3 separate regions of the Homo sapiens genome follow, and all the other regions are linked to region 1. Evidence: fine-mapped expression QTL. A gene starts in region 1. Each other region holds a variant in brackets. All regions are shown on one strand. Distances are from middle to middle. Region 1 holds the start of YWHAH (tyrosine 3-monooxygenase/tryptophan 5-monooxygenase activation protein eta). Region 2 has its middle 28 kb from the start of YWHAH. Region 3 holds the start of LINC02558 (long intergenic non-protein coding RNA 2558).

What was found.
Region 2: its variant is fine-mapped to the expression of YWHAH in whole blood (INTERVAL, PIP 0.92).
Region 3: its variant is fine-mapped to the expression of YWHAH in whole blood (TOPMed, PIP above 0.99). The same link has a PIP of 0.9 or more in blood mononuclear cells.

Annotation. Positions count from the first base shown.
Region 1 is chr22:31,938,681-31,948,768 of GRCh38, reverse strand. YWHAH (tyrosine 3-monooxygenase/tryptophan 5-monooxygenase activation protein eta) reads right to left here and starts at 4,234. Exons shown (of 2, transcript NM_003405.4): 1 at 3,949-4,234. The coding sequence starts at 4,035. It overlaps YWHAH-AS1 (YWHAH antisense RNA 1), which reads left to right and starts at 3,403. Exons shown (of 3, transcript NR_171018.1): 1 at 3,403-3,536. It overlaps LOC124900477 (a long non-coding RNA gene), which reads right to left and starts at 3,935. Exons shown (of 3, transcript XR_007068065.1): 1 at 3,534-3,935; 2 at 3,091-3,269; 3 at 1-1,305. RefSeq lists enhancers at 3,264-3,313, 4,057-4,914, 4,915-5,772 and silencers at 3,634-3,973, 4,044-4,263, 4,274-4,363, 4,644-4,793.
Region 2 is chr22:31,911,458-31,921,545 of GRCh38, reverse strand. No RefSeq gene overlaps it. Among named protein-coding and RNA genes, the nearest start is that of YWHAH, 28 kb to the left of the region's middle. RefSeq lists enhancers at 4,076-4,576, 8,878-9,377. The variant A/G (reference allele first, on the strand shown) is at 4,690.
Region 3 is chr22:31,961,234-31,971,321 of GRCh38, reverse strand. LINC02558 (long intergenic non-protein coding RNA 2558) reads right to left here and starts at 499. Exons shown (of 5, transcript NR_149128.1): 1 at 410-499. RefSeq lists enhancers at 1,140-1,249, 1,320-1,369. The variant A/G (reference allele first, on the strand shown) is at 6,096.

The DNA.
Region 1 (10,088 bases):
TTACATTTTAAATGCCCAGTTAGTGGGAAACATAGCTCCCTAGTTTTTACATATTTCAAACTGTAGTATCAATGTGGCTTTAAGATTTCCTACTGGTTGGGTGTGGTAGCTCACTCCTGTAATCCCAGCACTTTAATAGGCTGAGGCAGGAGGACTGCTTGAGGCCAGGAGTTTGAGACCAACTTGGGTACCATATAGAGATCCTGTCTATACAATTTAATAATTAGCTGGGCACGGTGGCATGCATCTGTAGTCCCAGCTGCTCAGGAGGTTCACTTGAGCCCAGGAGCTCAAGGCTACAGTGAATTATGATCGTGCCACGACTGCACTCCAGCCTGGGTTCCAGAACGAGACCATCTCTTTAAGAAAAAAAAAAAAAATACTAATCACACCTCAAAATCCTCCTACTCTCTGTGACACTGATCTGTCTCACCTGGGGCAGTCAGCTGTGCACTTTTACACAGCACCTGCTCATTTCCCCACTTCCCAGAATCTCACAGTTGTTGCAACAACAGCCTTTTGCCAGTGGTTGGGCCAAATGCCCCTCCTCTCCGACTCCTGTTTCCTTAAACTGTAGTTTTGTTTCCTGCACTTAAGATTTCTAGGGAGCCGCTGTGGCTCAGGCCGGTTGCCCTGGCACTCGGGGAGGTGAGGCTACACGTTCGAGGCCAACCTGGTCAACACTGATTAAAAAAAAAAGATTTCTATATATATATTCTGCAGGTACTTTAAACGTGTTTCTGCCCGTTTTCTGTCAACACTGTAATCAACTGGTGTATCAGTGTTAAAACACAATGCTAGCCCAGTAATTTTTACATTTGATAACTTTACAGTTACCATCTATGTTTTAATATAAAATAGATGACTTAGGGCCATAATACATGATGAAATTATGTCTGTCTATGAATATCCACCAGAAATCTATCTGGTTATTTTCCCTCTTTCCTTAAATCACTTAGTCTTCTGGACTAACATTTAATCCCACTTTATAGGTTTATTTCAGTTATCAAATGGTATTTACAGAGACTACGAATTGTGTAGCCTAGAATTGCCTAGCCTAGAAAGGACTTAGGTTCTAGAATCTTTCACAATATTTCTTCCCACTATTATACTCTATGCAAGCTGGTAGGTATGAGATAGAGCTTGAAGATACTCCTTTATGCTTCACTTCAGAAACATTTCTTGCTTCTTCAAATTATGGAGAGAAGCAGGGAAGAGAAGTTCTCAACAGGTTTGAGGCAAGACCATTGTTTCCAGTATGCACGATTTTTCTTCAAGCTTACCAACACTGTCCTCCAGGTGACGCTGGTAGAATGAGGAACATCAATCATTACAGGAAGGCAGTATTATCAAGTGAGCATTTTAATTATGAAGGAAACAGAAAACAAGTTAGAAGACTGAAGGCAAAACTGACTTGTTAATAACAGCAACATCACTAGTTTTATACTTCAGAGGACCTAAAGCCAAGATGTAAGTTTCAAGGTTACAGACTGGTGGCATCAGAATATATCCTTAACACATGTGTCCTGCTCCATCCTCCCTACAGCAGGCTACTTACCTGCCCTTCCCCAGCCCTGAAGAAAGCCCAGGTAAACCCAGAGGGTTACTGAAACTTACACCCTTTCCAAAAGCCTTAGTTAAGGCTGATGAGATTAATAACATAGAGACTGAGTCATCCCAGTAACATTAAGAATTTAATCTACAAACACCAAGTTAGCAGGGAAAGTGACCCCTGCCAGTCCCTTCCAATATATTCTTTTTTTTCTTTTAAAGAAAATACCTATAAGCACAATATATTCCATTTAGATGATGGGGGAGAAATGGTTTATCACCATTCTGAGATGGCAGAATTAAAGCTTGGATTGACTCTTCTACGCTGGGTGGCTTTTCCAACTCATTAATTATTTCAAATATAGATATTATAGATTCCTTTGGTTTACAAAAGGCTACCTTAACCCTCCAGAGAAGATCTATGGACACAAGTAGCTTGCTGCAGGAAAGCATTTTACAAGCCTACTAGAAAGCCAGTCTTTTTCTCTGCTCAAACTAGATTTCGTTCTGGTAACATCTCTCCATTCTTGCCTTTTTCCCCCATTTCAAGTTGCCTCAGGTTTCTGATTGTTCCAGAACACACCTTCTAGCCATTTTTCCTTAACCTCCATTTCCCCTTCCTTTAAACCTCGTCCCTCCTTTCTTTTCACCACATTTATTTCCCAAAGGGCTCCGAACACTGCAGTCTTTACGTCTCACTTAGAGGGTGAGCAACCACTTCATGAAAATGTGTGGAGAGGCCTCAGCCTGCATAATCCCAGCACCACTCAGTTACTGGGGAGGAGGGGCTTAAGTGTGACCTGCTGTGGACAGAGGCAGCTTTATCCCACAGAAAATTAAGGTTCAGGGTCCCTTCCAAGGAAATGCATTCGTCAGTCCCATTTTTGTAAAATATGCAAAACTATATTTTAGATTTTCTTTTAAAGGACCCCCTGAATTACATAAAGTTCAGCCTCCAGACCTAGACCGTCCCCCGGTCTGGAAGAAAACCTGCCTCACCACAACAGCATGCTAATAGTGCTCAAGTCAAGATCACCAACAAATCAACATACGGGCAACGGTGTTGCTGGTTTCCAAACACACCCAGTTATGTGTGTAACAAGGACACCAGAGGAAAGGCAACTCTTCAAGCACCTTTCTTACCTGAACAATCCTAAATATTGGCCCCAACTACATATTTCATCTGATATTAACATCAAAAGCCTTCAAATGAGCTTTCCAAATGACTTAAGATTTTAGGGAGCCTTTGTATTGGCAGTTTTTTTTCGGAACTCCCTCCAAAAGGCCAGCAAAGGATACATTTACTATAATCATGGGCAGTAATTCTCAGACTTAAGCCAGCTAAAAATCGCCTGTGAGAGCTGGTTACAATGCAGATGTCTGAGTCTCACCGCCCGAATTTCTGAATGTATAGGTCTAAGGCGGAGTTCAAGGGGATCCTCCCAGGTCTCAGGAGGTTGTACACTGAACATAGGTTGGTGGTCGCAGTTGTTCTACCACTGTGTGACCTTGACGCAGGGAGAGGAAATATTCATTTACAGAAAACGTAAAATAACGTGGAGAGAGAGTGAGATGGTAACCGGAACTCAGAAATGCAGGTGGTGTGTGACCCACGGTATTTTGCTAGGGTGTGGCTGGGCACGACTCATCCACCGGAGAAGCTGCAGAATCGATTTATGAGGGTCTCAGGAATGCAAAGACACACAGATTCGTCTCACCTAGAAGTCACGTTTCATTTTAATCTCCAAGCAGACAGCGCAGCAGCAAACCTGGGGCTGTGGAGTGGGGCCCCACACCCTCCGCCCACTCTCCCGCCCCCGTCCACGCCTAGACTGCAGGAAAGGGGTCTTCGCACACAAAGCCAGACCCCCAGGCGTGGGAAGATGGAACCAGAACAATTCGAACGAGCAGAGCAAAACAGATCGGAATTGCAGACTTCAGGTCGTGGCAGAGAAAACCAGCTGAGACAGGGCGCCACTTACTAGGTGATTCTTTATTCCAAGTTGGGGAACGGAGGAAGACGAGAGGGGGAGCCCCCGGGTCCGGTGAAACGCTCTAGGAGAAATGCGGCTCCTTCGCGTCCCCTAGGGCACCCTCTGCCCCCGGCCGGGTTCCGAACTAAGATGTGGCGACCCCGACCGGCCCGCCCCCCTTCCGGGGCTGCCTTCGCGATCCCGAACTGCACCCTCCCGGATCCCCCACCCTGGGCCCAGCCTCAGGAAGTGGCGGGGCGCCCAGCGGGAGCGGGAAGCGCGGGCTAAGGGCGGGCGGGCGGCCACGCCCAGCCGGGTCGCCGGGTCGCCCATGGCCGGGAGGGGAACGCGCCCGCGGCCATCCCCGTCCCTCCCCAACGCCAGGCCCCCCCCGGCCAGCCGCCCGGGCTCCCGGCGCGCTCACCGCCTTCATAGCGGAGGCCATGTCGTCGTAGCGCTCCGCCTGCTCGGCCAGCCGCGCCCGCTGCAGCAGCTGCTCCCGGTCCCCCATGTCGCTCGCGGCTCGGCCTCGCCTCGCGCCTCACACCGCTGGCTCGCTAGCCCTCCCGCCGGTCAGTCCGCTCCCCGGTCGCTGCGGAGGCCGCCGCCGCGCACGCGCACTGGCTCGCCGGCCGGCCGGAGGCTGCAGGCTGCAGGCTGCAGGCAGCGCCGCCGCTCGCGCCCTCTCGCTGGCTCGCCCCGCGCGCTGTGGCTCGCGCCGCGGACAACGCCGAGGGAGGAGACGCGGCCGCGCTGGGGGATGGGAGGACGGGACGACGCCTGCGCAGTGAGAGTGGCCAGGCCGGGCGGCGGGGAGCGGCGGGAGTGGGAGGGGGGAAGGGCGGGCCGGCCCTAACGGTCTATTTCAAGGTGACGTCACCTACTATAAATAGCCACCGCCGCCGCCGCCGCCCGGCCTGAAAGCCGCGCAGGCGCTCTGCGAGTGCTGCATTTTACCGCCGCAGAGATGGAGGTGGAGAAGGGAAAGCCGGGCAGGAGACTGCGGAGCCGGTGGAGGGGGCGCGGTGATGGCGGCTGCACAGGCAGTGCATTGTCATAGCCCCACCCTGAAACGCGCCACTCCATCCACGTTAGAGATCTGGCTTGAGAAGGGCCCCAAAAGCAAGCAAACATACTGGCGGAGAAGCCGGGAGACCGCGTGCCCCGAGGGGCGGGTCCGCCCAGCCCCGCCCCAGCCGTCCCGCCCGCCCCGAGCCCTGCCTGTCCATGCGTTCTGCTGGGCCACACCTTGTACTGGTCCGGGCAGGATCGAGTCCGACCCTCGGGGACAGCCCCGCTACACAGACACACACAATCGAACCCAACCTGAGACGTAGCCTTGGGCAGGCTGTGCCTTCCACCAGAGGAGGGGACTGGGTGGCCAGGGCGGGACAAGTAATATTCAGGACACATTAGGAGCCAGCCCAGTGCTAGTCCCGTACAAGCATCCTCCTCTTTAATCCTCACTACCCAGCCCACAGTGGGCACAGCTGGTCTCCCCATATTTAAAACGTGGAACCTGAGGAAAAGCGAGGTTAGTGACTTGCTCAGGGTTACGCAGCCTGTAAGTGGTGGGGCCAGGATCTGAGTCCAAACCCAGGCTGAACTTTCTCTTGTGGCAAAGAGCTGGGGTGGCCCAACTGGCTGGTCACTGAGCCCCTCCCAATCCTGGCTGGTATTGGATGCTGAGGGTCCCTTGTGCCAGGCCCTGGACTGGGCTGCCCGACAAGCTAGGAAAATGATGATTAAAACAAGGCCCCCACTTGATTTCAACACGCCAAGGGCAGTGCAGGAGAGGGGGCCTTGGGCTCGCTGAGAATTTTATTGAGCATCTACTGCATGCTCAGCCCACAGGGATAAGCTGGATCTTGAAGGAGAGTCAGGAAAAAGATTAAGGCCTGGGGTACAGCATTGGCAAAGGCTTGGCAGTGACCTGGGAGATGGTGAGAAGAGAGGCCTAAGAATGGGAAGTGAGGTTGGGTAAAACAAGATTACGGAGTCTTTTAAATGCCAGGCCAAAGATTTGAGGCTTCATCCTTAGGTAATTGGGAAGCCATATTTCAGGCCTGGAATCTTGCTCTAGAGAGTAAGACATGTTCGAAGGGAGAAGGGAGGGAACTGGAGACCAGGCCTTTTCTGGACCTGTTTTCCATCTGGAGAATTGGACTTAACTGTTTCAAGGACTTTAGAATAGATATCCACATGCTGAAATGTCAGAGCTGGCAGGACCCTTAGAATCACCCCTGTCTAACCCCTTATCCTGAATAACGGGAAACTGAGGTCTGAGGGAAAGGAGGGGCTGGCCCTAGTTTGCACAGCGAGTGAGCAGAGCTGGGGTCTCCATACCAGGTTTCCTGCCTCCCAGGCCTTCCTCTTCCTGCTATGATGCTGAAACGATCACACTTCTGGGGGCCCATGAAACAGGATTTGAATGTGGGTCTAGGAGGAGGCCACTACCCCAGGCTTCACCATGCTTTGAAGAGTCACTTTTGCTGTTGGAATCGAGGTTAACAAACCAGGCTAATCTTTCCCCTAGTGAATATATTTAAAGAGCATGCTAGATAGTAATGAATCATCCACTCCACCCCCCATAAGGATGGGGTCCCAGTGAGAGATGGGAGGAGGGCCAGCCCTGGATGGGGGGACCTCCTCGGTTCCTTCTAGCTCTTAGAGGGCTTAGAGCCCTTCCAGCTTTTCTGATGAGGTTGGACTAAGATTGATTTCAAAACAGTGAAAATTAGGTAGAGCTGGAGCATTCTAAATAATTGATTTCTGACATGTGTAAAGGACACTCTGGTTCTCCCATGAAGCTTTTCTTCTCACCAAACTTCCTCATCTCCTCTTCCTCACCTCCTACCCACCCATCAGCTCAGTGTGCTCTCACCCTGTCCCTACTCCTCCACCGTGGCCATCAGAGCCCTCCTTGTTGTCAAAGCCAAGGAGGTTTCATAGTGCCCACCTCCCTGGCCCTCTTGGCTGGACTGGGCACGACTGCTCACCCTTCCTTGACCGACTCTCCCAGCTTCCCTTCTGCTGCTCCGGCCATTGCTCTTCTATTTGCTGTATGGGCTTGTCTTCTAGCCTACCCCAAAATACTAGGGTTCCTCAGGGCTTTGTCCCGAGCCCTCTTCACACACTGCCCTATCCTTGGTGACCCCATCCTCATGCACTCTAAGGAACCATCTACCATGTTCCTAGTACCAGGCAAGGTGCTTTGCAGAAACGTGCATTTTTTTTTCCCTCAAGATACCCCTGTAAGGCTGGTCCGATTTCCTTTCCTGTTTTTTTGTTTGTTGGCTTTTGTTTTGTTTTGAGATAGAGTCTCACCCATTCACCCAGGCTGGAGTGCAATAGTGCTCTCTTAGCTCACTGCAACCTCCGCCTCCCAGGTTCAAGCGATCCTCCTGCCTCAGCCTCCCAAGTAGCTGGGGCTACAAGGCGCACGTCACCGCACCCAGCTAATTTTTTCAGAGAAAATTATTTAAACTCTTGTGCCTCATCTGTTAAATGGATTTTTTAGTCTTTTTTTTGGTTTGTTTTTTTCTCTAAGAGATGGAGTCTCGCTCTGTTGCCCAGACTGGAGTGCAGTGGCACAATCTTGGCTCACTGCAATCTCCGCCTCCCAGGTTCAAGCTATTCTCCTGCCTCAGCCTCCCGAGTAGCTAGGACTGCAGGCATGCACCACCAAGCCCAGCTAATTTTTTTGTGTGTATTTTTAATAGAGATTTCACCAGGTTGGCCAGGCTGGTCTTGAACTCCTGGCCTCAAATGTACCTCCTGCCTCGGCCTCCCAGTGTGCTGGGATTACAGGCATGAGCCACTGCGCCCAGCCAGTTTTTAAAATTTGTTTGTTTAATAGAGCTAGGGTTTTGCCATGTTGCCCAGGCTGGTCTTGAACTCCTGTACTCAAGCTATCCACCCACCTCGGCCTCCCAAGTGATGGCACTACAGGCGTGAGCCACTGAGCCCGGCCTCCTTCCCGTTTTACAGATAAGCAAACTGACACAGAGCTGTCCCATGGTTTAAACAAAGTCACACAGCTGGGAATGGGCAAAGCAAGGATTCAAACTCAGATCCATCAGACACCCAAGTCTGAGGGCCTCACACTGCCCCGTGGTGTCAGCTGAGAAGAGCTCAAAGTGTGACTCCCTGTTGGGGTCACTCAGATTATACAAAGCATACATAAGCCTCCCACCATGTGGCCTACACACTCTTACCAGCACACATCTTCTTTGCCCTTGGGAGAGAGTTGCTAACGCCCAAGAGCCTCATCAATAAAAATCAGGGTCACCACCTGCGACAGGTCACCTACTCCCAAGGCTCTACGTCCTATCGATAAACAGGGCCTTTGAACAACGTCAAAGACAGCACCTGAGTGAGGTGAGGGAGGTCAATGGTTAATGTCAAACACACTTTGTTGCCTCAGGGCTCAGAGCAGGTCCCCAGTAGAGGAGCCAAGTCTGGGTCTTCACCTGGTACAGGGTCTCACTCGGGGAACAGAACAAACCGCCCCCCCCCCCGGGTTCCTGAACACACGTGTGTGGTGTGATTTGAGAAAGAACGTGGTTCTTGTCTTGGGTTCGAATCCTACCCTGCCAGTGCACCAGCTGAGTACCCTCCGGCAAGTCACTTGTAAAAAGGGACCAATAGCCTGGCACAGTGGCTCATGCCTGTAATCCCAGAGCTTTGGGAGGCCGAGGTGGAAGGATCACATGAGGCCAAGAGTTCAAAACCAGCCTGGGCAACATGGCAAAACCCCAGTTCTACAGAAAACAAAATACACACACACACACACACACACACACACACACACACACACATTTTATATTTTTTTTTTCTTTTTTTTTTTAATGAAGTCTGTCTCTGTCACTGAGGCTGGAGTGCAGTGGCATGATCTCAGTTCACTGCAACCTCTGCCTCCCAGGTTCATCAAGCAATTCTCCTGCCTTGGCCTCCCGAGTAGTTGAGACTACAAAAAATATTTTTAAAAAAGAAAAACTGGCCAGCCGTGGTGGCTCATGCCTGTAATCCCAACCCTTTGGGAGGCCAAGGCGAGTGGATCACCTGAGGTCAGGAGTTCGAGACCACCTTGGCCAACTTGGCAAAACCCTGTCTCTACTAAAAATACAAAAATTAGCGGGGTGTGTTGGTATGCGCCTGTAATCCCAGCTACTCAGGAGGCTGAGACAGGAGAATTGCTTAAACCCGGGAGGCAGAGGTTGCAGTGAGCTGAGATCGCACCATTGCACTCCATCCAGCCTGGGCGTCAGAGTGAGTCTCCATCTCAAAAAAAAAAAAAAGGTCAGGCATGTTGGCTCATGCCTGTAATCCCAGCACTTAGGGAGGCCAAGGTGGGTGGATCACCTGAGGACAGGAGTTTGAAACCAGCCTGACCAACATGGTGAAACCCCATCTGTACTAAAAATACAAAAAATTAGCTGGGCGTGGTGGCAGGCACCTGTAATCCCAGCTACTCAGGAGGCTGAGGCAGGAGAATCGCTTGAATCCCGGAGGCAGAGGTTGTAGTGAACCGAGATCACACCATTGCAGTGCAACCTGGACAACAAGGCTCAAAAAAAAAAAAAAAATTCCTCACTTGCATCCCACCCTGAGCTAGTGGTCACGACTGCTCCTCACGTGGGACTGCATTTCTAAAGCATTGCCAGAACCCTCCACCAGAGCCCAGTGAATAGATGACCCAGAAAAGGCACATCCTGGTTTTTTTGTTTTTTTGTTTTTTGTTTTTCCACTCATGGATACTCTGAGACACTTACTCTGAGCTGCTGAGAAGTCTGGACACCAAGGGACATATTACAAAGGAGACGTGATGTTGTTCTGGAGAGATGGCATTTGCAATGTTGGCATGGTTACCATCTTGAGCTGGAGCAGCCGCCTGTCCACAAATTATTAATAATGTCACCCAGATAGGATTTTAACTTTTTCTCCCACTGTAGGCCACCTGCAGCCAAGGTGACCTTGCCGACCCAGCCAATGATAATAAAACCACCAGCAATAACATCGACAGCGGCTCTTGTTTTTTTTTTTGTTTTTTGTTTTTTTTTAAGACGGAGTTTTGCTCTTGTTGCCCGGGCTGGAGTGCAATGGCGCGATCTCGGTTCCCCACAACCTCCGCCTCCCAGGTTCAAGCAATTCTCCTGCCTCAGCCTCCAGAGTAGCTGAGATTACAGGCATGCACCACCATGCTCCGCTAATTTTGTATTTTTAGTAGAGACAGGGTTTCTCCATGTTGAGGCTGGTCTCAAACTCCTGACCTCAGGTGATCCGCCTGCCTCAGCCTCCCAAAGTGCTGGGATTACAGGCGTGAGCCACTGCGCCCGGCTCGACTCTTGTTTTTTAATCACTTACCCTCTGCCTGATTTGAGGATGAACACTTTACTCTCATATTATCTCCCCACATCCTCACTCGGAAGGAGGCTGTTAGCCCCACTATATGTATGAGGAAACTGAGGCCTAGAAGAGTCAGATTCTTGCAATCATCTGAAGCCTTCCCCACTCACCCCAACTTTGCACCATCTACTTTGACCCCAGTATCCTTTTGCTGAC
Region 2 (10,088 bases), 27 kb after region 1:
AGCAGGGACCAAAAACAGTCCCAGTGCTTACATTCCACTGAGCAGAAAAGACAATGCAGAAGCAGGCAGATAATGCAGAAAATTTTAGATGATGTTAAGGGCTATGGGGAAGAGACGAGAGGACACAGAGGTGCTGCTTTCTAGACAGGATGGTCAGGGAAGGCCTGAGAAGGCAACGAGTGACACCCACAATAAGGAACCAACCAAGCCACAATCTTGGGAAGAGGGTTCCAAGAAGAGGGGAGACATGCAAAGGCCCTGAAGCAAGGGCAACCTTGGGGTGTTCACGGAACAAAAAACAGGAAAAGCTGCATCATTCTGAGTAGGAGGAGATGAGACTGGAGAATGGAAACTTCTGGAAGCCCAGGCAGGCCTCACAGGGCCTTATGGGCCCTGGCAAGGAGTTGAGGTTTCATCCTGAAATGATGGGAAGTTGCTGAAGGATCCTCAAGCAGGGGAATGATACAACCTGTTCTATGTTTGTTTGTTTGTTTGAGACAGTCTCACTCTGTCCCCCAGGCTGGAGTATAGTGATGTGATCTCAGCTCACTGCAACCTCCACTTCCCGGGTTCCAGTGATTCTCTTGCCTCAGCCTCCTGAGTAGCTGGGACTATAGGCACGTGACACCATGCCTGGCTAATTTTTGTATTTTAGGTAGAGATGGGGTTTCGCCATGTTGGCCAGGCTGGACTTGAACTCCTGACCTCAGGTGATCTACCTGCCTTGGCCTCCCAAAGTGTTGGGATTACAGGCGTGAGCCACCACACCCGGCCTGTTCTGTATTTTAAAGAGGGCATGCTGTTGCTGTGAGAATATATTCCTGAAGGCGAAGGAGGGTGCAAGAGGACAGTTAACGTTGTGTCGCATCAGATGGAAGTGGAGATGGGGAGGGGGGTCAGATTACAATATATTTTTGCTAATGGGTTAGATGTGGGGGATGAGGGAAGGGGAAATATAGGATAATTCCAAGGCTTTCTGCCTGAATAACTGGGTAGATGATGGTACAGTTACTAAATCCGGGAAGACTGTGGGTGGAACAGGTTTGGGTGAGAGCTGGGGGTTGGGTGCAGAGCTAAATCAAGAGTTGTGTTTTAGACACATCAAGTTCACTGTTCTCTTAAATCTCTAATGAGAGGCCAAGAAGGCAACTGGACTGATAGGTTGGAATTCAGAGGTGGGATGGGCTAGAGATCTTGAGACTTGTGGGCATGTAGATGGTAATTAGGATCTCAGGATTGGGTCACTGGGGGAATGCAATGAAGAAAAGAGGTCCAGGAGACACAGATTGGGGTCTTCCAATGTGTGGAGACTGCACAGAGGCCAGCAAGGGAGGGTGAGATAGAAAGCCAATGGAGGAGGGCACCAGGAGAGCCCCAGCTCCACTGACCAACCTTGTAACCTCAGGCAAGTTGCTTCCCTTCTCTGGGCCTCAGTTTCCCCTATGTGGACAAGGGGATGGCCATATTCATCACTGAGGTGGTTCCAGCTTGATCATCCTGGGACACTCCTGAGAAAGAGCGGCAGCAGTTTCTGCAGCCACCTACCACAGGAAGAGATCAAAGCTCAGGCTCCCCCATCTCGTTTCCAGGACTCCTACAATGAAACTGAATGAAATCCCAAATACAACAAAACATAGCCCAAAGGTCGGCCACTCAGAGTTAGGGGCTGGGTAAGGTCATGGTGACCTGGAATAGAATCCAGCCTTTTTGTCACTTGCCAGATGGGTGACCCTCAAGCCTCAGGTACTTATCTGTAAAATGCAGCCAACAGGACCCACAGCAGGGGTCTGTTGTTAGAACTAAGCCAGGTATGGGTGGACACGGTGGCTCACACCTGTAATCCCAGCACTTTGGGGGGCCAAGGCAGGCAGATCACCTGAGGTCAGGAGCTCAAGACTAGCCTGGCCAACATGGTGAAACCCCATCTCTATTAAAAATACAAAAATTAGCTGGGCATGGTGGCGTGTGCCTGTAGTCCCAGCTACTTGGGAGGCTGAGGCGGGAGGATTACTTGAACCCGGGAGGCGGATGTTGCAGGGAACCGAGATCACACCACTGCACTTCAGCCTGGGTGACAGAGTGAGACTCTGTCTCAAAAAAAAAAAAAAAAAAAACAAAAAACAACTAAGCCAAGTAGCAAGCAAAGCATCCTGCATGGCTCCAGGCATGCATGCAATCAATGATCAGCTCCTTCCTGCTTTAGGAAGACTCCTTCCCTGAATCAGGAGAGAGGGAGTCCAACCTGGCTGCACTCTCAGAATGATGTAGTCCTACTGCTGGTCAAGCCTGGGGCTGCCAGCTCTGTGCCACCCTGCATCTCACTTGCAGAGTACGTGGTTACCCAGCTAATCACAGGAATTAGGGATCTGCAAAGACTGACTAGGTCATCTAGCTGGAGCCTGGGGCACTGTGGAAGGTGGGAGGAGGGAGGGGGGACAACAGCTTCTAAGGCTGACCGTAGCTGTAGACTCACCCCAGCCTTTTCCCAGGCTGCGTTAACCTGGCTGGCAAAGGGCAGTGATATGACAGCAGGGGAACACTATAGCAGAGAGTGAGCTGGAACTCGGGCCAATGTGTTCAGCCCAGTGACAGCTCCTGGCTCAGTGTCTCCTAGAAGCAGCCCTGGAAGAAGACAGGGACTGCAGGGGCAGCTGCTGGAAGGCGAGCTGGGCACGCAGCCTGGATTCCTGCCCCACCTCTGTCACAACCATTAGGCCAATGGCTCCACTTATTGGGCACCTCCAAGGTGGCAGGTGCTGTGCTAGGTGCTTAACTGAAGAGCTCTTCAACAACCTTGCAAGGAGGGCAAACATGTCCCTGTTGAAAAGATGAGGAAACTGAGGCTAACAGAAGAGGAAGGCTTGCCCAAGGTCACCCACCCTTCTAGACGTTCCTTCTTTTCAAGACATAGACAAGACACCCTTCCGCAGCACACACGGTCCTGCGCAATTGGTTCTGCTTCCTTCTCCTGCTGCACCTGCCCCTTCCTCTCCCTTGGCCTTCCATCAGGTCTCCATGGAAACATTCAGAAGCCTTCCCTAGGCCCCAGAATAGGTCAGGCTCCCCCTCACACCTTTTTTTTTTTTTTTTTTTGAGACAGAGTCTCACTCTGTCGTCTAGGCTGGAGTGCAGTGGTGTGATCTCAGCTCACTGCAGCCTCCGACTACCGGGATCAAGTGATTCTCTGCCTCAGCCTCTCCAGTAGCTGGGATTATAGTATAGGCACCTGCCACCACGCCGGCTTTTTATTTTATTCTATTTTTTTGAGATGCAGTCTCGCTCTCTGTCTTGCCAGGCTGGAGTGCGGTGGTGCAATCTCGGTTCACTGCAACCTCTGCCTCCTGAGTTCAAGTGATTCTCCTGCCTCAGCCTCCTGAGTAGCTGGGATTACAGGCACATGCCACCACGCCTAGCTAATTTTTCTATTTTTAGTAGAGACGGGGTTTCACTATGTTGGCCAGGATGGTCTTGATCTCCTAACCTCATGATCCGCCCACCTCAGCCTCCCAAAGTGCTGGGATTACAGGCGTGAGCTGCCGCGCCTGGCTCCCCTTACACCTTTCACAGTGGCCTCTCCTTTGTCTTTTGGGCACTTTTCGCAACTATACTTATTACTTCACAACCCTAAAAATCGTTATTTGTGTAATTTTTTGTTTAATATCCTTCCTCCTGCATCTACACGATGCCTGGCACATGGGTGACTGTTAATACGTATGTGTGGAAAGCACGGTGACTAAACCTGTAAACAACAAATGAGCGAATAAACCACAAACAAATCTCCCTCCCGCGGCGATGGGCTGGCTGCGATTCCACTGGGACACAGGGACTTGTATAAAGGGGCAGCTCCCTTAGAGTCTACATCATCAAACCTAATAGGAACAGTATCTTGTGATCACTGTGACCTGCAGCCCAAGGGGGTATGCACAAAGCAATCCCAAGATGTGTGCAGTGGGGGGTGGACACCCAGCTCCCTGCATGGGTCAGACCCCAGAGCTGGCCAGTTTCTCTGTTGTCCTCCAATCTGGCTTCCAGTGGTGGCAGCCACTCTCCTGGTTCCTGCAGGAGAGAGACGAAAGTGGCGAGGGGGTGTCTCACAAGGAGAACTGTGCCGGTTTCATTTCTGCTTTGAGGCGAGACACATCCTGTGTGTCAGACTACCCAGGGAGTGCTCCTGTTCTCCCAGCGCCAACCACCAACAGTGCAGTGACCAGGAGCAGGAGACCCTGGGGAGTCGAGACCAGGGACATGGCTGTCATGGCTGTGCAGGGAGCTTGGCCCCAGGCCCCACCCTGCCTCCTTCCCTGCACGGCGGCCTCTCCACAGAGGCCACTCTCACTGGGTTTCTGTCTTCCACACCCCATCTCATTGTGAGGAAAAGCCCAGCCTGGCTGGAGGGGATTAGGAGCAGGTGGGAGAATGCAGACAGGTGCGATCTCTCCTCTGCTCTGTGTGCTCAGTAACCCCAGGCAAGTCCCTGAACTTCCCTGAGACTCAGTTTCTCCTCTGAGAAGTGGGGGTCCCCACTCACCTCCATCAGGGCTGTCCCCAGGCCCTAGCAGGTTGGTGGACACACACTTGTTTGGGGTTCAATATACAAAATAAGCTCTTGCTGTTATCTTTTTTCTGCTTTCTTTCTTTTCCCAAGCTTCAGACTAGCTAGTGGTATATCATGTTCCTTGTACACCTGCT[A/G]GGCTCATTCAAAGCAAAATGTTTAGGCAGAGCATGGTGGCTCATGCCTGTAATTCCAGCACTTTGGCAGGCCCAAGGTGGGTGGATCACTTAAGCCCAAGAGTTTGAGACAGCCTGGACAACATAGTGAGACCCTGTCTCTACAAAAAATTAGTGGGGTGTGGTGGCATGTGCCTGTAGTCCCAGCTACTCGGGAAGCTGTGGTGAGAGGATCAACTGAGCCTGGGAGGCAGAGGTTGTAGTGCGCTGTGATCACGCCACTGCACTCCAGCCTGGGTGATAGAGCAAGACCCTGTCTGAAAATAAAATAAAATAGAAAACCAGAATGTTTGGCCTCCGTTACGGGAGCATTTACAGCACTGCCTTAAAATGGGGGAGCACCCTGCACCGCTCAGACACCTTTGCAAAGCTGACTGCCTCGGGTCCTCACCATGATCCCTCAAAGAAAGCTGGAGAAACGCCGTCATCACTGTACCCTCAAACTTGAGGTCGAGTGAGGTGAATGGACTTATTCAGGATCACAGGTAGTTGGCACTATTGTCAGACAAGAGTAACAGTGGCTTTTCCTCAGACTCAGTTCTCAAAATGCTGCCCCACCACCCCCCCCTTTTTTTTTTTTTTGAGACAGAGTCTCCCTCTGTCACCCAGGCTGGAGTGCAGTGGTGCGATCTTGGCTCACTGCAACCTCCGCCTCCCGGGTTCAAGTGATTCTCAGCCTCAGCCTCCTGAGGAGCCGGGATTACAGGCGTGCACCACCACACCTGGCTAATTTTTGTATTTTGAGTAGAGACGGGGTTTTGCCATGATGGCCAGGCTAGTCTCGAATTCCTGGCCTCAAGTGATCTGCCTGCTTTGGCCTCCTAAAGTGCTGGAATTACAGGCATGAGCCATTGCGCCCAGCTCAACAACCCTTATCTCCCAGGTTCTCACACCGACTTCTTGAGTTACGTAACGAAGTCTTGATGATTCCCATCTTGTCGCTAGACGGATGAGGGTCAGGGTGGTTTCAAAAGCCTATGCAGGGTCACCTGGTGAAGAAACAGCAGGTTGAACCTGGGCGCAGCGTTCTGATTCTGAGGAGAAAGGGAACATGAAAGAGATCATTTCCCTACTTGTCTTATCAGACACCGGCTACCACCGTGGAGCTTGGGTGTGTTCAGAGGCCATTGTTCTACCTACATCTGGGGCCAGGAAGAGCAAAGGCTGACAGGTGAGCAAGGCCTTGTGTGGCATGACACCAGGGGACAGGCTGGCTCAGGGCTTCCAGACAATGGGCCATTTTTTGGCTCCAGTGTGCACCCAGGGACTTGCCAGCACTCACCTCTAGTTGTTGAAAGGGCAGGCTGGGTGAGGCAGGTCGGGGAACTCTCTCTGCAGTTCTTCCTTTCAGTTTTTAGTCGTCTTCTCCTGACTGTTCTGTTGCCAAAACCCCCCAGCCCTCCAGCATCCCCTTCCCCACCCCATCCTCCTCACCTGCTAGAACTCTTATGTAGCTGTCAAGTCCCAGCCCAAATGCCCCTTTCTCCAGTCTTCCCCAGCTCCCCTACACAGACTGAAGCCCCCTCCTCTATTTCTTTTTTTCTTGAGACCAAGTCTCGCTCTGTCACCCAGGCTGGAGTGCGGAGGTACGATCTTGGCTCACTGCAAACTCCCCCTCCCGAGTTCAAGTGATTCTCCTGCCTCAGCCTCCCGAGTAGCTGGGATTACAGGCACCCACCACTATGCTTGGCTAATTTTTTTTTTTTTTTTGTATTTTTAGTAGATAGAGATGGGGTTTCACCATGTTGGCCAGGGTGGTCTCGAACTCCTGACCTCAAGTGATCCACCTGCCTCAGCCTCCAAAAGTGCTGGGATTACAGGCGTGAGCCACTGCACCTGGCCAATTTCTTTCTTTCTTTTTCTTTTTCTTTTTTTTTTTTTTTTTTTTTGAGATGGAGTATTGCTCCGTCACCCAGGCTGGAGTGCAGTGGCACAATCTCGGCCCACTGCAAGCTCCGCCTCCCGGGTTCATGCCATTCTCCTGCCTCAGCCTCCTGAGAAGCTGGGACTACAGGCACCCACCACCATGCCTAATTTATTTGTAGTTTTAGTAGAGACGGGGTTTTACAGTGTTAGCCAGGAAGATCTTATCTCCTGACCTCGTGATCCGCCCGCCTCGGGCTCCCAAAGTGCTGAGATTACAGGTGTGAGCCACTGCGCTCGGCCAGCGCCCGGCCAGTTTCTGTACTGCATTACAGATAGCCAATCTGAGACCTCTTCTAGAGGGCTATGGTGGCTGCTTTGCATGTCTGCTTCCCTCCACGAGGAGGGCAAGGCCCACGTTGGTTCAACCTTGCATAAATGTTGGCTGAATGAATGAATTCAATAAATTCTAAATAAGCACCAAATGTGTGATGGGTGCTTGCTGTGGAGGATACAAGGATGAGCAAGATGTGTTCTCTGCCTCCAAAGAGCTTACATTCGATGGGAGAGGCAAGGTACGTGAACAAGGAAAGTGGAAGGAAACACAGAAGCCATGTCCCAGCAAGTGAGCACTCAATATGGCCAGCATTCTAATCTGGTGCTGCCCGTAACTTGCTGGAAGCCTCTAAGCAGGCTTCTTAGCCACTCTGGCCTTGGAACCCAGCAAGAGTAATTCCTATAGATTGACGATGGGGCTGCCATTGGATTCAGATCACAGGAAGGGGCAAGTGACAGGTGCCTCTTCTTCCAAAGTCACAGGAGGGAGGGAGTCCCCCCGTCTAAGCCTCTTACCTGACCACAGTCTAGTTCATGGTGTCTGAAGCTGACACGATTGACATTGGAGGCTGGATAATTCTTTGCTGTAAGGTCTATCCTGAGCATTGTAGGTTTTTTAGAAGTACTCACTAGAGGCTGGGCACAGTGGCTCACACCTGTAATCCCAGCAGTTTGAGAGGCTGAGGTGGGAGGATCACTTGAGGCCAGGAGTTCAAGAACAGCCTGGCTAACATGGCAAAATTCTGTCTCCACAAAAAAAAAAAAACCAAAAATTAGCCAGGCATGGTGGCTCCAGGTACTCAGGAGGCTGAGGCACAAGAATCGCTTGAACCCGGGAGGTGCAGGTTGCAGTCAGCCAAGGTTGTGCCACTGTGCTCCAGCCTGGGTGACAGAGTGAGACCCTGTCTCAAAAAAAAAAAAAAAAAAAAAAAGCATAGAGCAGAGAGACAGCCAGGCATGGTGGCTCAGGCCTGTAATCCCAGTGCTTTGGGACGCTGAGGCAGGAGGATCTCTTTTTTTTTTTTTTTGAGACGGAGTCTTGCTCTGTTGCCCAGGCTGGAGTGCAGTGGTGTGATCTTGACTCACTGCAAGCTCTGCCTCCTGGGTTCACGCCATTCTCCTGCCTCTGCCTCCAGAGTAGCTGGGACTACAGGTGCCCACGAGCATGCCTGGCTAATTTTTTTTGTATTTTTAGTAGAGACGGCTTTTCATCGTGTTAGCCAGGATGGTCTCGATCGGCAGGAGGATCTCTTGAGGCCAGAATTTTGAGACTACTTGGGCAACATAGCAAGAATCCCGTCTCTATAATATTTTTTTTTTAGACGGAGTTTCGCTCTTTTCGCCCAGGCTGGAGTGCAATGGCATGATCTCGGCTCACTGCAACCTCCGCCTCCCTGGTTCAAGTGATTCTCCTGTCGCAGCCTCCCAAATAGCTGGGATTACAGGTGCCTGCCACCATGCCAGGCTAATTTTTGTATTTTTAGTAGAGACGGGGTTTCACCATGTTGGCCAGGATGGTCTCGATCTCTTGACCTCATGATCCACTCACCTCGGCCTCCCAAAGTGCTGGGATTACAGGCGTGAGCCACTGCGCCAGGCCTTTTTTTTTTTTTTTTTTTTTTTTTTTTAATTAGCTGGGCGTGGTGGTGCACGCCTGTAGTCCCAGCTACTCAGGGGGGCTGAGCTGAGAGGATTGCTTGAGACTGAGTTCAGGGTGGCAGTGAGCTGTGATAGTGCCACTGCACTCCAGCCTGAACAACAGAGGGAGACCCTGTATCTCTGAGAGAAAAAAAAAAAAGAGCACAGAGAAGAGGCAAGAAATTGCGTTCCAGTGGCAACTGTGGGACTGAAACAGACTGGAATTCCCCCCTCAGCACTCATCCATCCTGTTGGTTGAGAAAGGAAAAAGTCTATATATAATCTTATGGTCCCCAATGTTTCTCCCAGATGAGTTCAGATGAAAATTCTGGGGCTCAGGGAGAAAAGACTTTTCCAGAGATTGCATAGCAATTCCCCATCTCCCCTCATCCCCATGGGAAAAGAGATTTTCTTGTTGGAAGGACTATGTGCTGATTCACTGAGGAAACAGGAATCTTGCTGCAGCCAGAGAAGCAGATGGAGGTCAAATCTGAAGGCTGGTAGGACTCAGTACTCGGCACCAGCTTTTGCTACATGCAAATGCTACATCCCAGGCATTTCAGGCCAGGTTTAGGGCAAGTGTGTGGCACAGTCTGAAGGCCAGGAGCTGCCTGAAGCACTTGCAGGCTGAAGCCACAGCTGCAGACCAGAAGAGAGGGCACACACAGTGCCTTCCAGATAGAAGCCTGGCAGGGAGGAAAGGCCACTGGTCCTGCCTCAAAGTCACTGAGTCACTGCCCATTCCCTACCAGAGAACCTGTATATGAGGCCATGTCTACATGTTACACTGCATCTGTACCCATGCAGAGATTCACCATACACGTAAGGCAGTCAGTTGAAAGGAACGAAGGGGTCCCCAGGCAGGAACCCAGGATGGAGCAGTGGGTGGCATCTCATTGATACAGCACCACAAAAAGGTGAAGAGGGCAGCACAGTTGGTGGTGACTGGGCTGATTCCCATGAACCTGATTCCCAGTCCAGCTGTTTGTTAGCGTATGGGCGTGGACCCTACTTCCTGGGGCCTTCCACCCCTCAGCTGGTATGTTGATAAGATTATACAATGAGTCAGGTGCAGTGTCCCATGCCTGCAATCCCAGCACTTTGAGAGGCCGAGGTGGGTGGATCATTTGAGGTCAGAAGTCCGAGATCAGACTGACCAATATGGTGAAACCCTGTCTCTACTAAAATTACAAAAATTAGCTGGATGTGGTGGCATGCCCTTGTAGTCCCAGCTACTGGGGAGGCTGAGGCAGGAGAATTGCTTGAACTTGGGAGGCAGAGGTTGCAGTGAACCAAGATTCTGCCACTGCATTCCAGCCTGGGCAACAGAGCAAGATCTCGTCTCAACAACAACAACAAAGATCATGCAATGAAAAGGTGTATGACACATTGCCCAGGACACAGGAAGCACTCAATGGAGTGACCATTGTTATTCTGTGTTTTTCTGAACTTTTCTGGGTAACTGAAGAGGCCTGTAAAATGGCTTCTATTCAGCATTCCCTCCCAGTATTCGCTATCTGCTT
Region 3 (10,088 bases), 23 kb before region 1:
CGAGGCGGGAGGATGGCTTGAGCCCAGGATGTCGAAGCTGAGTGAGCCGAGATGACGTCACTGCACTCCAGCCTGGGTGACATAGTGAGGTGACCCCTCTCATAAAAAGAAAAAGAAAAGGAAAGAAAGTGAGAGAAATAGAGAGAGAAGGAAGGAAAAGAAAGAAAGAAAAGACAAGAAAAAAGAGGGAGAAAGGCAAGGGAAAGACAGGAAACGCAGGGACTGACTGAGGGACTGATGGAGGAGGCGTGTGAGCCGGGCTGGGGACGCGACTGACTGATCGGCTGACAGGATGACCAGCTGCACTGGGGTTGCTGAGGGGTGGCAGCGACAGCCAGCCTCTCAGCCTCGGTTTCCGCCTGCCTCCTGCCTCAAGCCAACTCACTGCGTGGCCTACCCCGACACTAACCGGCGCCTGAACCAAAACCCACGGAGCCTGGCGGCCGCGGCTCCCTCAGAGAGTCGCCCTAGACCCTGCGCGGCTCCACAGCGCCACCTCGAGGCTGCGCCTGGAAGGGAGGGGCTGGGGAAGTGGGCGGAGTCAAGGGCGGGGCTACAGGTGGAGCGTCGGCAGGAGCTCCAGCATCCCCTTTCCCGGGACGCCGCTCCTCTTCCCCGCCTCCTTGGCTCTCCCCCGGAGCCTCTTCCTCCTCCCCCGTTCGAGTGGGCAGGTCCCCGCGGGAGCCTGAGTCGCACTGCAGACCTATCCTGTGACCTGAAAGAAACTCCCAGTTCCCCATTAGACCCCCTGGCAGCCTGGGCATCCCGGCGGTTCCAGGGACCCGCTGGGGCGGATGACGGCCGAACCTTTGGGCGCCAGGCTGGCAGTAGACGTGATAGAGGTGAAAACCCCACCACCCTCTTAATCCCCAGAAATGCTACAGGATTCTGGGGGGCCTGAGCGAGCAGCTGAGGACAAGGGCCGATGATATTTGCTTTATTTGTTACTGGGCTTGCTCCCTCCCCCGCATCCCGCTGCTCTTCACACTTGCAAGCTCACCTGACTGCCAGGTGGCCGGTCTGGAGCATGGCGAGCACCTTCGAGCCCCATAGATGGCAGCACAGGCCTAAGAAAAGTCGTACCAGAATGGTGTCTCCCTTCCAAACTCAGGCCGGGAGAGATAGAGCCACTTAGGGGAGAAAACTAATGTCCAGAGTGGCAGAAACATCCTCACATCCCGAAGGGTCTTGAACCCTAACTTCTTGCCCCAGGACAAGAAGACAAGGCAGAGTAAAGAGAGGCTCACAGGGAGAGGCAAGTGACAGTTCAGAACACAGGTGCACCATGCCACGCGACTGTGGGCGTCTCCTCACCTCTCTGAGGCCGTTTCCTGAACTGTAAAATCAGGGACAAGAAGGATACCTGCGTCACGGGATGTTCTGAGATTAACTGAGATGCTGCATGCAAATCACTTAACCACAGGGCATGTGGTAAGTGCTCTAATATATGTAAAGCAACGTTCCACTGCTTTTTGTTTGTTTGTTTTTGAGACACAGTCTCGCTCTGTCACCTAGGCTGGAGTACAGTGGCATGATCATAGCTTACTGCAGCCTCAAACTCCTGGGCACAAGTGATTCTCCCACCTTAGCCTCCTGAGTGGCTGGGACTATAGGTATAGCTATCGAGCCCAGCTAATTTATCTTTTTTTATGTTTTGGAGAGATGGTGTCTTTCTACATTGCCCAGGCTGGTCTGGACCTCCTGGCCTCAAGCAATCCTCCCGCCCTGGCCTGCCAACGTGCTAGGATTACAGGACTGAGCCACCATGCCCTGCTGAGTGTGATGTCTTTTTTACTGTGTCAACTTGGCTAGACTAAAGGCCCCAATTATTCCAACACTAAACTGGATGTTTTGGTGAAGTTGTTTTGTAGATGCGAATAAAGTCCATTATCAGTTGACTTTACATAAAAGGAAGATATCCTGGATAATTTAGGTGGGCTTGATAGACGCAGTTGAAAGGCCTTAAAATCAGACTTGAGGTTTTCCTGAAGAAGAAATTCTGCCTGTGGATAGCAACTTCAGCCCTTGACAAGAGTTCCAGCCTGCACTTACTGCACTTACCTAGCCAGCCCCACAATCACGCAAATCACCTCCTTGCAACAAATCTCTTAATCTGTATCCCCTTACTGGTACAGTTTCTCTGATTGAACCCTAATACATTAAGGAAGCAGTATGGCCAGGCGCAGGGGCTCACACCTGTAAACCCAGCACTTTGGGAGGCCGAGGCAGGCGGATCACTTGAGGTCAGGGGTTCGAGACCAGCCTGGCCAACATGGTGAAATTGTCTCTACTAAAAATACAAAAATTAGCCTGGTGTGGTGGTACGCGCCTGTAATCCCAGCTACTCAGGAGGCTGAGGCACAAGAATAGCTTGAACCCGGGAGGCGGAGGTTGCAGTGAGCCGAGATTGCACCACTGCACTCCAGCCTGGGCAACAGAGCAAGACTCTATCTCAAAATAAAAAGGAGTGTGTGTGTGTGTGTGCGCGCATGTGTGTGTGTGTGCGTGTGTGTTGGGGGTCACAGGGCCTAATCTTCGTGTTTATTCACTCCTTTTTTTTTTCGAGGCAGTCTCACTCTGTTCCCCAGGGTGAATTGCAGTGACACGATCTTGGCACACTGCAGCCTCGACCTCCCAGGCTCAAGCAATCTTCCCACCTCAGCCTCTTGAGTAGCTGGAACTACCAGGCCTGGCTAATTTTTGTATTTACTGTTTTGCCATGTTACCCAGGCTACTTTCAAACTCCTGAACTCAAGCAGTCCACCTGCCTCGGCCTCCAAAAGTGCTGGGATTACAGGTGTGAGTCACCGTGCCCAGCCTATTCATTTCTTTTTAATCTCCGGGTAGTTTGTGACTTTTGAGGTCCAGTACTTGGAGGCACTAGCAAAACCATGGTTATTTATTGGTTGGGGTGGGCTATGAGGTAGCTAGAGGCAGAGGGCCCCTTCCACCAGTCCTGCCCCCTGAGGCCTCAGCTTCGTGGATGTGCCTGCTCATTCCCCTCTTCTCCCTGCCTCAGGTGTAGGCCTGGAAATGAGAGCTACAAAGTATGCTGTCCCTGGGAACCAGCTGGTGAGGAGGAGGCTTCTACCCCAGCAACCATCTGTCCCACATGTCCCTGTACCCCGCCTCTCCCGCCTCTACCCCACAGGCTCATGTGTCATGCACAAACACCTTTTGCCCGCCTGCCCTAATTCTTTTTTTTTTTTTTTGAGAAGGAGTCTCACTGTGTCGCCCAGGCTGGAGTGCAGTGGTGTGATCTCGGCTCACTGCAACCTCCGCCTCCCGGGTTCACGCCATTCTCCTGCCTCACTCTCCCGAGTAGCTGGGACTACAGGTGCCCACCACGACACCCGGATAATTTTTTGTATTTTTAGTAGAGACGGGGTTTCACCATGTTAGCCAGCATGGTCTCGATCTCCTGACCTCGTGATCCGCCTGCCTCGGCCTCCCAAAGTGCTGGGATTACAGGCGTGAGCCACCGCGCCCGGCCAGGCAGAACCTTAAAGGCAGGTGGAGAGCACCTGTAATAGAAAGTGGCTCTCATGATGAAGCTCTGCTGAGCTGAGAGATCTTGTCACTTCCTAGACCCTTGGTTTGCTCCTCTGCACCCTCAATGGTGGTGAGCAACAAGGAGGTGGCCAACTTGAAAGCACCTGGGGCTTTATGGGCTCTTGGATTATCTTCCTTTCCTCCCCAGGAAACTCGGGAGGCTGGAGAAACATCACATGGTGGGAAGAGAGTAGGCTCATGAGTCAGCAAGCCTGAGTTTGAGGCCTGCTGCCCCCACTTGCAAGCCATGGGACCTTCAGGAAGATCTGGAACCTCTCAGAGCCTGATTTCCTCATCTATAAGATGGGCCATGGCTGGGCGTGGTGGCTCACACCTGTAATCCCAGCACTTTGGAAGGCCGAGGCTGGTGGATCACCTGAGATCGAGAGTTCAAGACCAGCCTGACCAACATGGAGAAACCCTGTCTCTACTAAAAATACAAAATTAGCCGGGTGCGGTGGCTCACGCCTGTAATCCCAGCACTTTGGGAGGCCGAGGCAGGAGGATCACGAGGTCAGGAGATCGAGACCATCCTGGCTAACACAGTGAAACCCCATCTCTACTAAAAATACAAAAAATTAGCCGGGCGTGGTGGCGGGTGCCTGTAGTCCCAGCTATTCGGGAGGCTGAGGCAGGAGAATGGCATGAACCCGGGAGGCAGAGGTTGCAGTGAGCCGAGATCGCGCCACTGCACTCCAGCCTGGGTAACAGAGTGAGACTCCGTCTCAAAAAAAAAAAAAAAAAATTAGCTGGGCGTGGTGGCGCATGCCTGTAATACCAGCTACTCGGGAGGCTGAGGCAGGCGAATCACTTGAACCCAGGAAGCAGAGGTTGCGGTGAGCCGAGATTGCACCATTGCACTCCAACCTGGGCAACAAGAGTGAAACTCCATCTCAAAAAAAAAAAAAAAGAAAAGACAGGCCAGTGGGTGCGGAGCCCCCTCCCAGAGCTCCTGTGGGGACAGTAACACAGCTGGCACACAATGCTCTCTCCACCTTTAGTAGGGGGTTGGTAAAAGTGAAAGCCCCCATGTTAACATAAGAGTGTCGTTACTACTGCTGAAAAACACGACACCCGATCCCTCTAAAAAAAATCCCAAAAACCTGCTTCTCCCGACGTGCAGCGTTGAAAAAGGCACTCCTTTTTAAGACCACCCCTGAGAGTGTGTGCCTCCTTAAATGTTGTTCCCTAGGCCTGGCACGGTGGCTCATGCCTGTAATCCTAGCATTTTGGGAGGCCTAAGTGGGAGGATTGCTTGAGCCCAGAAGTTTGAGACCAGGCTGGGTAACATAGCAAGACCCCACCTCTACAAAAAATAACAAAAATTAGCTGGTTGTGGTGGTGTGTACTTGTAGTCCTAGCCTCTAGGGAGGCTGAGGTCAGAGGATCATTCCAGGACGCAGTGAGTTATGATCTTGCCACTGCACTCCAAACTGGGTAACAGAGTGAGACCCTGTCTCTTAAAAAAATAAATAAAATTTAAAAATTTAAAAACCTATGTCGTGGGCCAGATCACATGAGGTAAGGAGTTCAAGACCAGCCTGGCCAACATGGTGGAACCCCATCTCTACTAAAAATACAAAAAAATTAGCCAGGCGTTGTGCCACTTGCCCGTAATCCCAGCTACTCGGGAGGCTGAGGCAGGAGAATCGCTTGAACCCTGGAGGCGGAGGTTGCTGTGAGCCAAGATTGCGCCACTGCCCTCCAGCCTGGATAACAGAGTGAGACTCCATCTCAAACAACAACAAAACAACAACAACAAAATATACATATATAATATAATATAGATATAGATATATGTTGTGACCTAGGCACCTCTCTTGCTAACCTTAAGCCCAGCCCTGCACCCCTGCATCATCTGAAAGATGACTACTCATCTTTCACCCCACTACTCACAACAGAAACCTGGGTAGCCTGAGTCCTTCCTTGCCCTCACCCTCAGACTCAGTCCTTTGGCAAATCCTGTCAACTCTACCTCCCAAATAGTATCCACCATGTCCCTCAGTCACAGCCCCCACATAGGTCCCTGCCACTCAAGCTCTCTCTGGAGCAAACTACTCTCCCATCTGTCCCACGCAACAGCCAGGTGAGTTCTTTTTATTTATTTTTTATTTTTATTTTTTTGAGACAGAGTCTCGCTGTGTCACCCAGGCTGGAGTGCAGTGGCGTGATCTCGGCTCACTGCAAGCTCCGCCTCCCGGGTTCACGCCATTCTCCTGCCGCAGCCTCCGGAGTAGCTGGGACTACAGGCTCCCGCCACCCCACCTGGCTAATTTTTTGTTTTTCTTTTTCTTTTTTTTTTTTTTTTTTTTGTATTTTTAGTAGAGACGGGGTTTCACCGTAGTCGCGATCTCCTGACCTCATGATCCGCTCGCCTTGGCCTCCCAAAGTGCTGGGATTACAGGCGTGAGCCACCGCGCCCGGCTTTTTTATTTTTCTGAGATGGAGTCTCGCGCTGTCGCCCAGACTGGAGCGCAGTGGCGCGCACTGGAGTGCAGAGGGAGCACGCAAAGTATCAGGAGTGGAAAGGAGGCTGGCGGCCC[A/G]GCGGAAAGCAGGCTGGAGAGGAATTCAAGATGAAGGTAACATGGGCAGGGCGGCAGGGACCTTGAAGGCCTCCATCTTCTCAGCACTGGGAAGCCCTGTGGACGTGTTTTGAGCCGTGAGAGAAACACTCCTGTTTGCATTAAAAAAAATCAGCCAGGCGTGGTGCCTCACGCCTGTAATCCTAGCACTTTGAGAGACTGAGGCGGGCGGATCACCTGAGGTCAGGAGTTCAAGACCAGCCTGGCCAACACCGTGAAACCCCATCGCTACAAAAATACAAAAATTAGCCGGGCGTAGTAGTGGGCGCCTGTAGTCTCAGCTACCCGGGAGGCTGAGGCAGGAGAATCACTGGAACTTGGGAGGCAGAGGCTGCACTGAGCTGAGATCGTGCCACTGCCCCTCCAGCCTGGGCAACAGAGAGAGACTCCATCTAAAAACAAAAAACAAACAAACAAAAAAACATGTCCCTCAAGTGCCTTCGCTTTTCAGCACCATGCCCAGTCCATACCACAATGTGCATTTGGGTGACTGTGGGGTCACCCTCACCCCACCACACACACATGACCCTGAGCACCATTAGGACAGTAATCTGGGCTGTTTTGCTCCCTGTGGTATCCCTAGTAGCCATACACAGGAGGAGCTGAATCAAAGCATGCTGGATGAGCCATAGCTGAGGAAAGAAGGCCGGGCACCTGCCCTGATTATGGGCAGGGGGCCACATACCCTGGTTTGCTTGGGGAGGCCATGTTCACTTGTCTTTCCCACATAATAATAATGGTGCCCTGTTCACTCTCAAATGTCCCAATTTGGTGACATATGATCAATGTAGTTATTGGAAAGGAGAAGGGGTTAGCCCCGAGCTTCTGCTCTTTCCCAGCCCCACACTGGTTTCCCACTTGCCCCCAACAAGCACAACATTCAAAGCTTTTTCTTCTAACTCTTGAGATTTTTTTGTTGCTGTTAATATTTCCCTACATTGCCCTCAATCTCCAGAAAAAACATAAAATTCTCTCTGCCCATTTCACTGCAGAAGTGGCCTCCTGGAGGGTTACCATGGTGATCAGATGATGTCACTGTCCTGGAAACAGTTGCCTAGGAAATGTGTGATGTCACTTCCAGGAGATGATTCCCATGGTAACCATCTCAGTGGAATTGGGGGGTGGCCAGGAAATGGGGGCTGAGGGCGGATACAGAAGGGACAAATGTGAAGAGCGGAAGGAAAGGGGGAGGGGGAGAAATGCAGGAAAAAACCAGGAAGAGGAAGGGGACCTTCCCAGAGCAGTTGAAAATAATATACAGAATCTCAGAAATGGAAAGGTCCCCAGAGACCACTAAATGCAACAACCTCATTTTTACAGAGGCTGCTGAGAGGCCAGGACTTGCTCAAGGTCACACCGCCAGTTGACAGGTTAGAGCCAAGCCCAAGGCTGCATGACTGTCAGGTTTGGGTGGGGTAATAAAGGATTCCTTTCAGCCATTTCTCTTTGTTTTGTTTTGTTTTTTTCCCCGAGACAGAGTCTTGCTCTGTCGCCCAGGCTGGAGTGGCGCAATCTCGGCTCACTGCAACCTCCACCTCTCGAGTTCAAGCGATTCTCCTGCCTCAGCCTCCCGAATAGCTGGGATTACACATGTGCACCACCACACCCAGCTGATTTTTGTATTTTTAGTAGAGATGGGGTTTTACCATGTTGGCAAGGCTGGTCTTGAACTCCTGACCTTGTGATCCGCCCGCCTCAGCCTCCCAAAGTGGTGGGATTACAGGCGTGAGCCACCACGCCCAGCCTCAGTCATTTCTTTTTAAAAATTCTGACCTGTAATCAATGAGTTATTCATGAATTCATTACTGTGAGTTTGTGTGCTGGACCTGGAGAGGACCGTGAGTGACATTTTCCTAGTTACTTTATATCTTTTTAATGTATCTTCCCCACTTTTTTGTATCTCCCCACTCTAACACTGGAGTTAGCCCCCTGGTCCATGTCCATGTCTGTATAATTCACTAAGGTCTCTCCAGCCACCTGCCCAGTGTCTACCCCATAATGGCAGCTCTTCAATGTGTTTGTCAAATGAATGAAGACAGATAAATGCCATTGTGTGGTACAGACCCACAGTACTGGATCCCAAAGAAGGGATCGCAGTAGCTGACAGGGAGGAGGTAAGATTTCATAGATAGAATTCGAATAGGGCAAGAGAAGAAAGCCAGACAGGAGAGTAACGGCTTGAGCAAAAGTAAGAGCAGGCTGAACAAACTGGGTGCAGCTGGAGAGATTCCAGTTGGTGCTTTGATCCACCTCTTGAGTTATACTGTAACGGCAGTGCCTACTGTAACTGTAGTACCTCACTTTTTGAAGTGAAGGAGCTCCAAGCTTTAGGAGTAAGAAGCACATTAAGGTCCAGATTGCCTGGAGATGTGGGTGGGGCAGTAAAAAAGACCAATCTGGCTTAAAAGGCGAATGTAAAGAAGGTGATTGAGCAAAGGCTACCTGGCAAGGAAGAAAGAGGTCTTATCAAGGAAGACCTGGAGTGGCAGGCTTTCAGCCCCTGTCTTGAAGACAACATCGCATCATGAAAAGGATCTTGAAGCCCTGCACAAAGACATGCTCTGCCACTCCTCAGCTATGTGACCATAGAAAGTCACTTTTCCTCTCTGAGCTGCTAAATTGGAGCTATGACCTAATTCACAAGATTATTAGCTTGAACTTTAAAATGTAGGCTGGGCGTTGGCCGGGTGCAGTGGCTTACGCCTGTAATTCCAGTACTTTGGGAGGCCGAGGTGGGCGGATCACCTGAGGTCAGGAGTTCGAGACCAGCCTGACCAACATGGAGAAACCTGTCTCTACTAAAAATACAAAATTAGCTGGGCGTGGTGGCGCATGCCTGTAATCCCAGCTACTTGGGAGGCTGAGGCAGGAGAGTCGCTCGAACCCAGGAGGCAGAGTTTGCACTGAGCCAAGATTGTGCCACTGCCCTCCAGCCTGGGCAACAGAGAGAGACTCCGTCTCAAAAAAAAAAAAAAAATGTAGGCTGGGCGCAATGGCTTATGCCTGTAATCCCAGCACTTTGGGAGGCTGAGGCAGGAGGATCACTTGAGGTGAGGAGTTGGAGAGCAGCCTGGCCAACATGGTGAAACCCTGTCTCTACTAAAAATACAAAAATTAGCCAGGTGTGGTGCCATGCACCTGTAGTCTCAGCTACTCAGGAGGCTGAGGCAGGAGAATCGCTTGAACCTGGGAGGTGGACATTGCAGTGAGCTGAGAGTGTGCCACTGCACTCTAGCCTGGGCAACAGAGTGAAACTCTTGTCTCAAAAATAATAATAAAAAAATAAAAATGTACATAAAGCTTCACTTAGCAGGGTGACTGACTAGCTCACAAAAGACAGCAAATGTTATTTCCCCTCCCCTTCCTAGTACAGAATGGCATGGGAGTAGAACTTTGGGAAATGAATTTGACAATAGATTCCTTCAGGTTTGTTTGTTTGCTTGAGACAGGCTGTCACCCAGGCTGGAGTGCAGTGGTGTAATCAGGGCTCACTGCAGCCTCAACCTCCCAGGACCAAGCAATCCTCCCACCTCAGCCTCTCAAATAGGTGGGACTACAGGCATGCAACAACACAGCTGGCTAAATTTTTGTACTTTTAGTACAGATGGGGTTTTACTGTGTTGCTCGGGCTGGTCTCAAACTCCCGGACTCAAGCAATCCTCCTCCCACCTCGGCCTCCTAAAGTACTGGGATTACAGGTGTAAACCACCTTGCCAGGCTTGTTATAACATTTCTAGGACTCCTTTTCTCTAGTTGGGGATCAAAATATCCATGGCGTAGTGGAAAGAACCTTAAAGTAAGACAGCCCATTTCAATCTCAACCTTGCCTCTTACTAGCTATGCACGTTACATCACCGAATACCTGGTTTCCTCATGTGTTAAAAATATTAACATTCCTCACTGCTAAGGCTGCTGTAAAGATTCAGAGACCATGCATTCAAAGTACCCAAGACA